Linked DNA regions of Homo sapiens. The protein of the gene in region 1 interacts with the protein of each later gene in a biochemical or structural test. Each region holds a gene or a part of one and is shown on either strand. Other genes may lie near its edges.

Region 1 (8,031 bases):
TGGGCAACAAGAGCGAAACTTCATCTCAAACAAAAACAAAAACAAAACAAAATTATACGAAGCTGATGTTACTTGAGCAATTTTTATTTTCACATTTGAAGGTTTCTTTCCCAGTAACTGAGCATGTTTTTGCCAATGGCAGTCTATGCCTGGCTGCTACAAGGCCTTCCTTCTGCTTCCTGAGGAGGAGAGAGTGGGTGGCAGCAGGGCAGGGCAAGGCAGGGTGGAGCAGAGCTGGTCTGCGATGCATTTCCCCACCAAGGTTTCCAAGTTCCCCCAAAGCTTGGGGTACCCCTTGCTTTGCCAGTGTCTTCCTCTTTCTGGTCCTGGGGCGCCATCCAACTCATCTCCACACTGCTGGCTCCTTAAGGTGGGGGTCTCAACTCCAAGGCCAGCCTCCCAGGAGGCCCTCCCTGCCTACAGCCAGCCCCAGCCACTCCGCGCCTTTTGGGGATCTGAAAGATCTCGCTCCCGTACTAGCAGGTTTGTTGATTGACTGTTGTCTCTCACACCAGAATGGAACCACACGGGGTACAACCTGGTCTCCTTACCCTGATCCCAGTGTCTACAGTGGTAGGAGCTCATCGAACAAGGGGACAAACTCATGACTAGCTGACCAAGCCTGTCACCGTGGTAGGGGCCAGGGAGAAAGCTGGGAGGTCCCTGCCTTTGCCCGCATGCCAGGGCTTCTCTGGGCAGGCACCACGTCCATCCCACCCTACTCCGCGCTGTGGCTGTGCCTGCAGCCTTAACCCGCGGCCTGCCAGTATGGTGGCCCGCGTGGGCGACTGGCCTGGGCAGCTGCTGGGCGGGGCTGGAGGGTGGAAGGCCAGCAGGCGGGAGACACCCCCCACCCTCTTCCCTGCCAAGCTCAGGAAGAAAAGTGGACCCTGGTGGCTCCCTCTAGGCGTGGCTGCTCTGACCCTTGGTGGGGTGGGTGCCTTCCTCTGGAAGCTCTGACATATTGGGGGAAGGAAGTCTCAAGAGTCCACAAAGGTGGAGGTAGCTTCAGAGACCAACTGGAGGCCCTCACCTGTCCCCGCACCTTCACTCCATGGCACACCTATGGCTACTTCCCAGGGGTCCGCACTCTGGACAAAGTGTTGGTCCCTGGCTAGGACCCTGCAAAGCCAGAGGCACAGAAGGAAGCAGAGGCTCTGGGTGGGCACTGCCCATGCTAGGGGCCCTGCACAGAGCCCCTGGTCCACCAGAGGAGCCAGAGGAATTCTCTGCTTGATTGGAGACACTTCCCAGCAGGCCTGGCTGCAACCACCTTCTCTGAGTTACAATTTGACTGAGTTGTATGGAATTCAAATCCAGATGGAAGGAAGTGACAACGTCAAGTGCAACACTAGCTGTGTTTTGTCCAAAACGTGGGCCAACGAAACTATCTCCAGGAAAACAAATAAGTCCCTTTTCTATTTTTTTTTTTTTTTTTTTTGAGACAGAGTCTCACTCCATCGCCCAGGCTGGAGTGCAGTGGTGCAGTCTCAGCTCACTGCAATCTCCACCTGCCAGGTTCAAGCGATTCTCCTGCCTCAGCCTCCCGAGTAGCTGGGATTACAGGCATGTGCCACCATGCCCGGCTGATTTTTGTATATTTAGTAGAGAGGGGGTTTCACCATGTTGGCCAGGCTGGTCTCCAACTCCTGATCTCAAATAATCCACCCGCCTCAGCCTCTCAAAGTGGTGGGATTACAGGCGTGAGCCCCTGCGTCTGGACTGAATATCCTTTTTTTTTTTTTAGACGGAGTCTCGCTCTGTCGCCCAGGCTGGGGTGCAGTGGCGCAGTCTCGGCTCACTGCAAGCTCCGCCTCCCAGGTTCACGCCATTCTCCTGCCTCAGCCTCCTGAGTAGCTGGGACTACAGGCGCCCACCACCACGCCCAGCTAATTTTTTGCATTTTTAGTGGAGACGGGGTTTCACCGTTAGCCAGGATGGTCTCGATCTCCTGACCTCGTGATCCGCCTGCCTCGGCCTCCCAAAGTGCTGGGATTACAGGCATGAGCCACTGAGGCTGACCCTTTTTTTTTTTTTGAGACAGGGTCTGTCTCAAAAAAAGGGTGTGTCCCTATCACCCAGGATGGAGTGCAGAGGCTCAAGCACGGCTCCCCGCAGCCCCAACCTTCTGGGCTCAAGCAATCTTCCCACCTCAGCTTCTCAAGTAGCTGAGACCACAGGTGCAGGCCACCATGCCCGGCTAATTAAAAAAAAAAATTATTTTTTGTAGACAGGGTCTCACTATATCGCCCAGGCTAGTCTTGAACTCCTGGGCTCAAGCGATGCGCCTGCCTTATCTTCCCAAAGTGCTGGGATTACAGGCGTGAGCCACCTTGCCGGGTTAAATATCACTTTTAAGGAAATGATCTTCTTACCCAGCTTTCTGGTGTGTGAACACACAGAGAAAGCCTGGCCTCCAATTGTGGGGGCCAACGGAGTGAATGGGAAGAGTCGGGGGACAGTGTGGAGTGTGAGGACAAGGAGACAACCCCCAAGGCAGCGGAGAGAGGGAGTATGGAGCCGCCCTGGGGTCACCTACAGGTAGGTCCTGGCTGCCTCTCTAGACACCTGCCCTGCCGCAGGTCCGGCCAAGACCTGCACAGGGACTCCGGGCCGGCTCCCCCAGGATAGGAACTGCGCCCAGGAGTGCTGGTTTGAGGCAGGTTCCAGCCTCCACTGGGGAAGTGAGGGGCAGGAGGTCCCAGCTGAAGGTCACTCAGGTTGCAGCGGCGTGGCCCTCTCGCCTCCGCCCAGCACCCAGGCCAGCTTGGGCACCCCCGGCCCGTGGGGCATGTCCCTCCGCCTCAGGCGAGCACAGACCGAGCCCTGCCCCTCCCCAAACACACCATTGCGTCCCTGCGCCCGCAGGCCTCGCTGGAAGCTGCCTCCCCTGGAGACCACCCGGCCGACTGTCCAACTTCGGGGCCCCGGGCTTCCCGCTCCCCGCCCTGCCAAGGCTTGAGTCTCTCCCACTGCGTGGCCAGGCGTGGAGGGCCGGCCGATCCGACCCCGAAAGACGTCTCAGCGCTCCACGGCCCCGGGGCGGAGGTCAGGGGTCTCGCCGGCCCGAACGCCGGGCCCCGCGGGGCCGAAGTCCTGATAAGCCACCTGGCAGGAGTGGCTGGCAGACCGGCTGCGTCTGGGGCACCGGGCGCCGCCCCTCCCAGGCCCGAAGCCCCCGGCCCGCGCAGCAGGGACACTCCGCCAGGGGCCGGCGGGCGGGGCGGGGCCGGCGCGGCCGGGAGCCGCGGACACTCGGCCACCGAGCCACCGGCCACGGCGCAGCGGGGGCCGCCGGGCTGCGCCGCCAGGGTCACGCGACGCGGTGCCCGTCTCGGCGCAGGGTCCCTGGGCGTGGCCGCTGTCCCCCTCGTGTGTGGGACCCCAGGTCACCGTGTGGCGTCCCGGTAGTGTGTGGGACCCCAGAGGCGTCCGGGGCCTCCCCGCTGTGTGGTGTCCCACCCTGGGAGAACCCCGGGTGCGTGGCGTGGCCCCCCGGCCGCCCCCAGCTGGTTTGCGGTCGTGGCGGGGGCCTGTGGGTTTCTGGGCCCCGACGGCGGCGAGACGGGCGCCTTCCCAGCGGCGCAGGAAGCGGCCTCGGCCGGAAGGGGGGCCCCGGGCGCCACCGCCGCCTCCGCCTCCGCCCGCGCCCAGCGGCCCTCGGCGGGCGGGGCCGAGCGGGGCCGAGCGGAGTCGAGCATGGCCGAGCGTAGCCGAGTCCCGGCCGAGCGGAGCCGAGTCATGGCAGGGCGGGTCCGAGCGTGGCCGAGTCCCGGGCGAGCGGAGCCGAGCGCGGCCGAGTCCGGGCGGGGAGCGCGCGTTCCTGGAAGAGCCCGGCTGGGGAGCGGGTCACATTCTTGGCCAGCGCTAGGGCTGAGGCGGACGCACGGCAACAAACAGCGCGGGGGGCGGGGCCGGCGCGGGGCGGAGCGGGCGGCGCGGGGCGGGGCGGCGCGGCGGCGGCGTGAGCTCAGCGCCGGGCGCTCAGTCCGAGCCGGAGCGAGCCGCCGGGAGGATGTGCGCCGAGCGCCCCGAGCCCCGCGCCGCCGCCGCGCTCTGAGGGCCGCGGGCGAGAGGCGCCTCCGCCGCCCCGGAAGCCGGGCGGGCGGGCCGCGGAGCCGGCGGGCGGGCGGGCCGGGGGCCGGCGGCGGGCGCGACGCGGCCGGCCAGCGCCGCCGGGACGAGCCGGGCGGGCGCCTCGCGGTGGGAGGAGCGGGGCGGCGGCGGCGCGCCGCGCGAGGACGGCCCGGCGGGCCCCGCGCCCGCGCCCCCGCTCCTCCCGGGCCCCTCGGCCTCGGCCGCCGCGGCGATTCGCGCCTCGCGGCGCCGGCACCTGCCCGCGCGCCCCCCGCGAGCCCCGGGCCCGCGAGCGTTGGCGTTGGCGTTGGCGGCGCGCGCCGGGGCATGCCCCGCGCCTAGAGCCCGGGGGGCGCGCGGGGGACGCGCGGGGGGCCCGGGCGGCGGCGGGCGCGGCGCGGGGCGCGTGGATGTGGCGCCGGGCCCGGGCGGCGGCGGGCTCCAGCGGCGGGACCCCTTCGCCCCGCCCGCCTTCCCCTTCGCGCCCCCGGGCGAGGCCGCGGCCGTGATCGGCCGTGAGCCGGCGGCGGGGGGCGGCCGGGGTCGGGGCCGCGGGCGCCGCCGGGGCGCGCGGGGCGGCGGCGGGGGCCGGGGGGGCCCGGGCGCGCGGGAGCGGGAGCGGCCGGGGGAGCCGGAGCGCACCATGGAGGCGGCGGCAGGCGGCCGCGGCTGTTTCCAGCCGCACCCGGGGCTGCAGAAGACGCTGGAGCAGTTCCACCTGAGCTCCATGAGCTCGCTGGGCGGCCCGGCCGCTTTCTCGGCGCGCTGGGCGCAGGAGGCCTACAAGAAGGAGAGCGCCAAGGAGGCGGGCGCGGCCGCGGTGCCGGCGCCGGTGCCCGCAGCCACCGAGCCGCCGCCCGTGCTGCACCTGCCCGCCATCCAGCCGCCGCCGCCCGTGCTGCCCGGGCCCTTCTTCATGCCGTCCGACCGCTCCACCGAGCGCTGCGAGACCGTACTGGAAGGCGAGACCATCTCGTGCTTCGTGGTGGGAGGCGAGAAGCGCCTGTGTCTGCCGCAGATTCTCAACTCGGTGCTGCGCGACTTCTCGCTGCAGCAGATCAACGCGGTGTGCGACGAGCTCCACATCTACTGCTCGCGCTGCACGGCCGACCAGCTGGAGATCCTCAAAGTCATGGGCATCCTGCCCTTCTCGGCGCCCTCGTGCGGGCTCATCACCAAGACGGACGCCGAGCGCCTGTGCAACGCGCTGCTCTACGGCGGCGCCTACCCGCCGCCCTGCAAGAAGGAGCTGGCCGCCAGCCTGGCGCTGGGCCTGGAGCTCAGCGAGCGCAGCGTCCGCGTGTACCACGAGTGCTTCGGCAAGTGTAAGGGGCTGCTGGTGCCCGAGCTCTACAGCAGCCCGAGCGCCGCCTGCATCCAGTGCCTGGACTGCCGCCTCATGTACCCGCCGCACAAGTTCGTGGTGCACTCGCACAAGGCCCTGGAGAACCGGACCTGCCACTGGGGCTTCGACTCGGCCAACTGGCGGGCCTACATCCTGCTGAGCCAGGATTACACGGGCAAGGAGGAGCAGGCGCGCCTCGGCCGCTGCCTGGACGACGTGAAGGAGAAATTCGACTATGGCAACAAGTACAAGCGGCGGGTGCCCCGGGTGAGTGGCCCCAGGCCTGGGAGCTGGGGAGGATGCGCTTGGGGTGGGGGCCCCTTCTGGACTACAGGCTCTGGTCTCCGAAGGCTGGGACCTGTGCTTCTGCCGTGCCCCATGTCTCCAGTCTTCGCTTTGTTTTAGGGAAATTCAGAGTGTTCCGACTGGCAGGGCCAGAGAGTTTGGTAGGAAGGCCCTCCTGCCCGTTCCCCAGGACGAGCCTGGAGTGCGGGCTGTGGCGGTGGGGTGGGGGGCCAGGCCTGGTGTGTGGGGAAGGCCCGCAGGCCCACAGGCATTGCCCAGATAGGAAGGCACAGGCCTCATGCTCCCGAGAAAGCGGCCTGCCCCAGGTCAGGGAAGTTAGGTCCAGCTGGGCCACGGCCCGGATGCCTCAGGCCCAGGTCTTTCTTGGGGTTGGGGTGAAGGTGGCTGTCCTCGCCCCGAAGGCACCCAGCCTCGAAGACGGAGGGCTGCCTGCCTTTGGGCCCCAGGAGACAGAGCTTGGGTGAGGCGAGGCCTGGTTTTGTTACTGGCTCCCGCTCCCTGTTTGGTGCCTTGAAGTTTTGGGACACAGACACAAAATGAAGCCAGGTGTCCAGGCTTCAGTGGCAGGGGCCCGAGACTTGGCGGCTCCAGCACTGTGCTGGTTGGTCTCCCTGGGCCTGCCAGGGACCAAATCCCAGAGTCCGCCGTGTGGGGTGAGGGCCATTTGGCACCCGGCTGAGGGGCCTGGTCAGCAGGCTCCTGGGCCCGCGTGCTGGAGTTACTGGCGGCCTGCGATTTGCTTTGGACTCACCCATTTCCTTCTCTCCCTCTGAAACGCAGAGGGGTGCGCCGGAGAGGGAGGCTGCTGGCCTGGCTTTGTTGTTTGCCAGTTGGAGGATCTATGGGATCCGGCATGGGCAGCTCCCAGGCCACGAGGTGCCGAAATTACTCAGTGGGGTCCTCAGGAACTTTCCGTTGCGTACCTCCCCAAGTATTTGTAACTTTTCTTTTAAATATCCAGGCTTATTAAATTGCACACACAGAATGCTGCATTGGCTCAGCTATTCTTGGGAGGCCTAATTAATTCAGCTATTGCATCAAACTTTTTTTTTCTAAATCTGTGAATAGATGCTCCAGCCCGGTTTTCTCTGGGCGCCCCTCCAGCAGAGTGTCAGATCGTGGGGAGGAGGGGCTGTGGATGGAAGCGAGGGACTGTCGCCTCTGCTCGGAGGGGGCTGCGGAGGGTGCATGTGTGTGTGCATGTGTGTGTTTGTGTGTGCGCGCTTCTGACCCTGCCAGGCCAGGGCTCAGGTGGCAGCCGCCTGCAGACCTGTGGGCTGGGGAAGGATGCTCGTGGCAGAGCTGCAGACAGACGTAGCAGGCTGGGGCCCTTCGTGTCACACGGGGAGTTGGTTGGGGTGGGCCCGATGGCGCTCCCTGTGGGCTGGGGCCTTTCTTTTTGGGGTGGCCGCACCCTCGTCAGTGCCTGTGGCTGGAGGAAGCCACATGTCGGGGGGGATTGTGGGCTCGTGCAGGCTGCGTAGTGGGTCACCTGTGGCCAAGGCCTGAGCTGCTGGGACACGCTCACGTCACTGTCTTCAGAGCTGATGGCAGAGGATCTCGGTTGAGCAGGGTGTGTCTGCGTTTGTTTTTGTCCGACTGTGGGTCATGTGTGTGCTTGTGGTCTTTCTGTCTTCCTGGGCTTTGCTGGGGGCCCATTGGAGTGGCCAGTGGGGCCTCGTTGTCACAGCTGACACAGAGCAGGGCCCAGGCCACCCGGCTTCTCTCTCCCTGTGGTTGTGAGCGCCGGGGTCCTTGGGCCGCCATAGAGACAGGCCAGACAGGCTCTGGTCATCTCAGCGGATGCCTCCGAGCCGCCTTTCCCTTTTGAAGTCCCCAGCACTGCTCTGAAATTTCATTTACCGATTAAAAAGCAATTCCCAGGCCATACTGACGACGTGCACGGTGTGAGTGACTGCGTCCTCTAGGCCTGAGTGGCAGCCACACAGCCTGGCCCTGGCAGTGGTGTCCTCCGCCTGGCTCCCTGAATGTTCACCAGCTCCTGCGGGTTTTCCTCTCCTCATGCTCCTGGGGGTGGGGCACCCATCCTGCCCGTGTTGCCTCCTGCTCTATGTTCTTGACGTGGGATGGCGGCCAGGGACTCTGCCCTCGCTCAGTGCCTGCCCTTTAGGCTCTGTGACTGTGCACTTGGGAGTTCTGGGCTTCAGGGTCCCCTTAAGTCTCCTCAGGACAGCCGTGTGCGTGTCTCTGTGTGCACAGGAGCGACACATGAGAAGGGAGTGTGGTCTCAGGGTGGGCGTGGACCCACAGTGCCCAGACCCTACTTGTCCTAGAAGGAGTGG
Region 2 (8,215 bases), on another chromosome or scaffold:
TGTAAATGCTGTGTAAATAGTTGTTATACCATATTGTTTTTAAATTTTGTATTTTTCAATTGTTGTATTTTTTAGTTTTAAAAATTTACTTATTTTTTCTACTTTTTGATCCACGGTTGGTTGAATCCAAGGATGTGGAACCCTTGGATACAGAGGGCTCTATGTTTTATTATAAATTGGCTTATTTTAAAAAATATTTTTTATTATGTAAACAGGCAATGATTTTACTAGCTAGAAGCAAATTTAATGTTTTAAAATAAACCTTCCAATTTTGTTAGGCATGATAATGATGGAACTGAGGCTTAAATATACCCTATGGCAGCAGTTGGAAAGTGGCCGAATTAGGGTTGGGGTCTAGATCTGTCTGCCTCTAGATTGATTGCAAGTTCTTAACAATTACTGTTTATTCTTCTCTGATTCCTTTCAAGGATTAAATAAAGTACAATGTAAACTTCATGCTCTATTTTAGATTCTGGTTCTCATGTGAGTCCCAGAATAACTTGAGTGAAATGTTCTGATACAGAGCAGAATAGCCTCTTGTGCTACACTTTTGTTAATTATTTTCAAAGAATAGTCTCCTGTATACCATTTCTTTAATAGACTCAGAAGTCTGTAGAATTGAGGTGATTCTGTTGTGATTTAAACTACATCATGCTATATGTTTCCAATAGATATTTGAAAATATCTTTTAAATAAACCATTAATGTCATGGTTTTTAAATCAGTATATCTTTGGAAAAAAGGGAAAGGTCTAAGCCTTAATTTACCTGGCTTTTTCTGGCTTTTATAGTCTGGTAAATTTTGCAGCCTGAAAAAGCAAGAGAATCTATAAAATACTTGAATGAGATGCTGGAAAATTTCAGAACAGGTTTTGTTTTGAACTGTCGGGTCACTGTAGCCCCCAAAGCAGGGCATGATGTGTTCCTGCAGCCTGATAGCTATGTGACAGCACCTGTAGTACTAAAGCCAAGGATGCCAGGTGGTTCTGTTGCCTGGCCACAGGAAGCCAGCGCTTCTCACCATTGCCCTTTGAACTGTTGATCCAGTTAAGCTCACTAACAATGTGTAAATATGAAATTTAATCAATTGCTTGATTCATTTTCAAAAGATGTTTTGAAATACTCCTTTATCCGCATTGAAGTTTTGATGATTTTGTAATATGTAAGAAATGGACTTTTCAGAAAAGTACAACTTAGTACTTGAGACATTGGCTGTCAAAGTTCCATTCCAAAACTTCCTTTTAAGCTCTCTTTCCCTTCTCTCACTGACCAGAAGTTACTATGAAATGAAATAAAGGTAGGGAAAAAGGGAGAATTATCTCTGAGCTGCCCATATTCTGGAGAGAAATGTGGGAGAAAATTTTTAAGGTGGTATACTAAATTAGAATGACTTCAAAGTCTATTTCTTTATTTATTCTAGAGATGAGAACAAAATAATTTTCAGTAAAACTTAAAAATATCATGACCAGATAACCTGAAAATCTTAACTGTGGATGCATGTCTATTTTTATTGGGATTTTTTTCTATATTAAAAATCAGTTGACATCTGTTTTTAGATAATTTTTTAAAAAACTGGATTATAAAATGAAGCACTTAGTAAAGCTGATGGCAGAGGTTTTAGATCTTTTGAATACAGGAAAGTGGTAAGGGCATTATAGGTATGATTCATTGAGCTAGAGGGCGTTGGTGTTCACATTTTAAAAACATAATCATGACTTATCTGGAGTCACATGTTCCATTTTATTGGCTTCCTTCATATAGAAAATATAGTAACCAGCACTACATGCCTGTGAAAAAGTGAAGCAATTGTATATTTTCTGGGTGAAGGAAGTATTCTGTACATTCTCCATGTTTTACATCATGGTATTTTGAATAACCATGCTTCCATGTTCACATCAATTTTTTGTTTTTCAATTTATGCACAGCACTTGCTCTGAAATTTGGGGACTGAGTACACCAAATACGATAGATCAGTGGGATACAACAGGCCTTTACAGCTTCTCTGAACAAACCAGGTGAATATTCTGCCCTCTGTCGAATCTTAGAGATCTTGTGGGAGGGGGGTATATTTTGAAAGACCTATATGGGGTTGCTTAGTATAATTTTGCCTAGGATGTTTCCTTAATGTAAAATAAGGCATAGCATTTAAAATATCTGCTTGCCAGTATAAAAAATATATTAAATGTTTCAGCTGATGTTTTAATCAATGCAATTCTAGTTTGAATCTTCTTTAAATTACTGTATCCCCTAAAGAATAATAATTTTGATAACTATATATTTATTTTAGCTTGAGATCAGATTATAATCTGTTGTTGGCCTAATTTTTAAGTAGATACATGATGAGTTTTGCTAAATTTCTTGTTATCAGAATCTCATCTTTATACTAATAAATACATACTTAATGAACCCCTTATATCACAATTAACAGTAGGTTAACTCATTTTTATGTTACTTTTTTTAATCACTTCATTTTCTTTTTTGCGTATATGGTATTTGTTCATTTCATCTCATCATATTCATCACCATCCACATTTATTTGTGAACTACATAAATATACCTCAGTTCTCAAAACAGTCACAACTGGGTAAAGAGTTGCAGTAGTCTGAGGAAGTTACTATCACATCATTGTTGGTATTTATCATTCTTCACACTAGTTCCTTTTCTGACTCTTCAGTCACCTCCAGAATTAATATCCTTAGAAGCATCTCTAAAATGAGTTTGATTTACTAAACATAGAAGTTGACAAAGTTTTTCAAGTATAACTGCATAAACTCTCTTTTTTAAAAAATCAGTTTTTCCCAAGTTGTTAGCCTTTCATTGGCATTTGAGTCATTTATGTGACATATTTATAAGAAACATCTGCTAGTGCTGCTGCATACTTTTATCAGATCCATTAAATAGTACATTTTTGTTCTTGATTCTCACTAAAACTAACTAAATGGCTGTCATTCTTTTCTTTATGCTTTTATTGTACTAATTTAGCCCATTTGACTGCACTTTTTTTTTTTTTTTTTTAAAGTTCCCTCCTTTCTTTTCCCCTTGCTTCCCAACAGGTCTCTTGATGGTCGTCTCCAGGTATCCCATCGAAAAGGATTGCCACATGTTATATATTGCCGATTATGGCGCTGGCCTGATCTTCACAGTCATCATGAACTCAAGGCAATTGAAAACTGCGAATATGCTTTTAATCTTAAAAAGGATGAAGTATGTGTAAACCCTTACCACTATCAGAGAGTTGAGACACCAGGTAGGAATATTGCAAGTTTTTTTCTTGGTTTTGAATTAAATGCCTGAACTTCAGTATATTTAAGTACTCTTGTGACCCAGGAAAATTTTAGTGTAAATTCTAATAAATTACCTTAAATTGTGCATATTATTTGGTGGTAATTAAAATTTTTTTATTTTTAAAAATTTTTAATGAGAAAACATATCTGTTTCTTGGAATAGCATATGATTTGGCATGAAAGTGCATATCCAGGAAATCCTGTAGATTGGCAGTCTGCTCAGCGCTATGCTGATGTGCTTCTACATGTCCCTGCTGCAGTAACATTTTCAAGCATTTTGCACTTGGAGTGCTTTTAGAAGTACTTTAATGACATCATTTGTATGTACACCGTTTAGTAAAGCTTGTAACAAGACTTTTCATTTAGTTAGCTGTCTACCTGAAACTATTAAAAAATATAGCAGTAGCTGCGTTTTTGGAAAATTTCCTATATCTGATTTTACAGATAAAGACAATGTTAAGTTTTCCAATGGGGATTTATGAACTTTTATGGTAATATAATATTACCAGGATCACATTGTTCCCAAAAGTTTGAGATAAATTAGAACTTGGAAATTTGGATAATAGACTACCTAAGTTAGAGCCATAATCAGATTTGTCATTTTCTCAGTAACTAGTATATATCGAGTAGGTGGACCCTAGCTTTAAAAATTAAGCTACAACTTCTCTTCTTGTTGAAAACTTTAAAAAAGGTTCCCCCACTCCCCTTTGCTCTTTGCCATTAACTTGGATTTCTTGAACTTTTTCAGTTTTGCCTCCAGTATTAGTGCCCCGACACACCGAGATCCTAACAGAACTTCCGCCTCTGGATGACTATACTCACTCCATTCCAGAAAACACTAACTTCCCAGCAGGAATTGAGCCACAGAGTAATTATATTCCAGGTATTTTTGCCTTCTGAATCTCCTAAAACTTGGATAGATACAAATTTTGTTCATAAGCATTCAAGTTTTAGTAAATTGTGGTTTCACTTTTTTAAAAATGCTTTTGAGTTTTTAATAGAAAAATTGGATTCGTTGGGTGATTATTTTGTGAAATGTATAAGCCTAGTACATTAAACAGTTTTGTTTGGAGAAGAGTTTTACTTTATATTTCATTTTCTTTTGCAGTGACTTTAATCAAAGTACTGTGAGAAGCAGAAAAGAAAAGATCTTAGTAAGTTTGTCTTAGTTGTTGAAGCTAAGCGAGATGCAGAATGTAAGCAAAACAAATGGTGTAGGAGAAAAGTACCCCCCAAACACATGTAACTGAATATCCACCCAATGATCACTTTTTCTTAGATAACTTGGTAATATTTAACAGAAATATAACATTTCTATAAGAAATATAATACTTAGTTCTATAGACATAGCAACACTTACATATTATAACACGAACGTCAGAAAACCTCCTTTAATTATGTTTCGTCTGCATCTCAGTAATTTCTGATGAAAATTGAATTCAGCTACATGGTTCTCAAATTTTGTTCTGATGTATTATGTGATCCAGTAATACTCCACGATATGATATCTGGCCTTTTCGTTTTTTATGGTTTCTTTTTTTTTTTTTTGGAGAACAACTAATACTTTGTTACTTTTCTTGTATGTTTTCCTTTTTGTTTGGTTGATTTTTCTCCCTAGCAGAAACAGCATGATGTTAGGATGAGGATTAAGCTGTAGTGTCTCGATTTCTTTCTTCCTTTTGTAATATTCTTTTATTCCACTCTTATTTTATACACTAAAAATATGTAAGGAACTTAAGAGCATTTACAAAATTCTTAAAATACAGTTTTAGTACATTTAAACAATTATTTCTTTCATGTATCCATCATGGAAATAATGCTTATTCATTGAAGATAATTTTTTAAATGTAAGGAAGAAAAAAAAGAAAAGATAACTAAGAAAGATAAGTTTTTTTTTTAAATAGCTGGTTTTACAAATGGGAAGTGGTTTTTGATTGTTTTAATGTATATTTCTTTGATTACTGTTTTATTCCAGAAGAGGATTTAAAGCTGCTTTATGGGTTGCTAGGAAATACAAACTTACTGAAGTTAAGAGAGGGAGAGGGTGGGATGTAGTATGATAACACTAGGAGGAGGGAAAACCCGGGACTATGAAACAGGGCAATTGCTAGGTAGAAAAGGGAGTGGAGTTGTGTGAACGTTGGTGTGGGGAAGGGGAGGCATTTTAAGTCGTTAGTGTGGGAATTACTGTTATTCAGCCAGCAATACTAACCTTAGGTATAAACATGCAGTCTTAGGGACAACACGCATATCCAGTAATTATTTGGAAGGCTATTCACCAGAATGTTTAGTGGCTTTCACTTGTGAAGATGTTTGGGCTCATTTTTCCTTTCTTTTTTATTCCTTTAATTATTGAGATTTGAGTATTTTATAAAGTAGAAAATCAGAAGTGGATTATACCCATTTGCTTTTCTGGACAGTGGGGCTTTATCCGGTTTCAAGCAACAGCAAAACCAAAGGGTTCACATTTTATTCCACTTAAAAGAAATTTTAACATTTTCTCAAAAATGCTAATAGCTTTATTATTTATTACAATAATGGAAAAAATAAACACAGTAAGATAACGTATTTTAAGGTTCAGCATTTCTTTCTGATTAGATCTTTGAAATACAGGTTAAACTCAAAAAGCTTAGCGCCGTTTAACTTTATTAGCTTTAACTTTTAAAATATGCATAATATGTACCCTTATTTTTATGTTCTTTGAGTATATGAAGATAATTTATTCTTAGAATTTTTGTTTTAAAAATTTGGGGGTACTGACACTTAAATGAAAAGTTTGATACTTAAAGTTTGTGGTTAGTTTATTGAATAGATATTGTAAAAGGTTATTGAAGGAGACCCTTAACCTGTATCTTCTCTTCCTCTTTTTTTTTTTTTTTTTTTTTTTTTGAGACGGTGTTTTGCTCTTGTTGCCCAGGCTGGAGTACAATGGTGTGATCTCGGCTCACCGCAGCCTCCACCTCCTGGGTTCAAATGATTCTCCTGCCTCAGCCTCCCTAGTAACTGGAATTATAGGGATGCACCACCATGCCCGGCTAATTTTGTGTTTTTAGTAGAGATGGGGTTTCTCCATGTTTGTCAGGCTGGTCTCGAACTCCCCACCTCAGGTGATCTGCCTGCCTCGGCCTCCCAAAGTGCTGGGATTACAGGCATAAGCCACCGCGCCTGGCCTCGTTCTTTTGATAATTTTAAAATTGTTTGGATATGTGTCTTTGTTATCTTGAATCGCTCAAAACTGTTCAGTGTAAATGTAAAACTGATGAAAGTCTTCTGAACTTATTTTTCCTCCCTGGAATTACAGTTGATTAAATTGTATACATGTTTTTATTTTACATGCAGTTTATTCAGCTATTCAGATACCTTTCTGAACATAAGTGTTTTATTCAGACAACATGTTGGAAATAATATATTAGAATCCTAATGGTTATTTTCAGGGAGCATTTTACCTCTTTATACAGTAGTCTATATTTGAATTGAATTTTCTGCTTCAAACACTTAGACTTTACCAGTTAGGAATCCTTGGAGAAACACACTTTTTAGATAGAATTCAGCCTGGACCAATCCGGAACCATACTCTACCATATTTTACCCTATAGAACTTAGTGTAAGTTGTAAGCCTGTATTATTTAATACTTTTATAATCCAAAATCTTGTGTGTTTTTTAATTTTCTAAGTACTCATAAAATAACGATGTTCATTAGATTAAACAACAACAACAAAAAATTGTAGTTACTGATGGTTTTGCAGCCTACTGATTCAGATCTGAGGCATTTTTAAAGTTACGTTTTTGGCTCTTGCCCCAGAATATGTACATATAGGAATGAGCAAGATACGTACATAATGTGTATGTCCAGAGAGTAGGATTTTATTAAAAGTGGATGTTAAGGATTCACTGCAAAATTTGGACAAGATCCTGAATTATACACCCTCAGTATGCAATATTACTTTTTATAATATTATATAACATTATTATTTGTTATTTGGAGTGATTCATTGGTTATCTCTGGTAGCTGAGAGAAAAGGTAGTGAGATTATGTTGCAGCTGTGCTTGATTTGTTTTAAACTTTTGTAGAAACGCCACCTCCTGGATATATCAGTGAAGATGGAGAAACAAGTGACCAACAGTTGAATCAAAGTATGGACACAGGTAAAAAAAATGTCTTTGAAAATTCCTCAGTTATTAGATATACATTTCTTGTATTGTTTGAAATTCACAAAAGATGTTACTCTTAAATTTAGAGAAGTTGAGACGCATACCAAAAAAGATGATCTTCTATCTTGATTTAACATATCTGAACTACCAAAGAGGTCCATGTTGTCACTGAAAAATTATAACGTATGCTACTCTGCAGAATAATTGTTATTTTTTATTAGAGTAAATGAAAATTTGAAAACATGCACATACTTTTATTTCTTTTTAAGTATTTGCTTCTGTTGAAAATTTTAGTAACCCTATGACTAAGTATCTCTCTGTGATAAAAAACCATAATTACTCAAATAACAGATTTTCAGAGGAATTTGGGGGTGAAGGATGGGGATCAGCTTTTCACTGCTTTTTTAACCTAATAGTGAGTTTTGAATTATAGTAGATTAATTTCTTATGCTTAGCTATCAACTCCAAAAAGTGATGAAGAAAAAAATTAAAGCTTTAAATCACGTCTTACGTAATAAAATGTATAACTCAGCAGAACTAATAAACTACCAGTGAAATCACTTTGATGTCATTGTAATTGTCCAGTTTGATTCATTTTACCTGTCTGTATCTTAACTGTTGGACACCTTAATATCACAACCTGACAAATTATACCATCAGTCTTTCTCCACATCTTAACACTAATGCATTCTTGGTTATGATAATCTAAATTATTTTTAAGTGGATTAACATTGGTGGGGGAGGGAGGGGTTACAATAATTCTCTTGTTTAAATCCGTTT

The links. Proteins that work in one complex are often made in the same cells at the same time.
Region 2: the proteins of SKI (region 1) and SMAD2 form a complex in vitro, tested with the Homo sapiens proteins (4 studies listed by BioGRID).

The regions. Positions count from the first base shown.
Region 1 is NC_000001.11:2,224,047-2,232,077, forward strand, and holds the start of SKI (ski oncogene), read left to right. Parts: upstream 1-4,272; 5' UTR 4,273-4,720; coding exon 4,721-5,689; intron 5,690-7,397; exon of another isoform or gene 7,398-8,031. UniProt on the Homo sapiens protein: May play a role in terminal differentiation of skeletal muscle cells but not in the determination of cells to the myogenic lineage. Functions as a repressor of TGF-beta signaling.
Region 2 is NC_000018.10:47,864,273-47,872,487, reverse strand, and holds part of SMAD2 (mothers against decapentaplegic homolog 2), read left to right. Parts: intron 1-1,923; coding exon 1,924-2,013; intron 2,014-3,051; coding exon 3,052-3,245; intron 3,246-4,030; coding exon 4,031-4,165; intron 4,166-7,354; coding exon 7,355-7,429; intron 7,430-8,215. UniProt on the Homo sapiens protein: Receptor-regulated SMAD (R-SMAD) that is an intracellular signal transducer and transcriptional modulator activated by TGF-beta (transforming growth factor) and activin type 1 receptor kinases.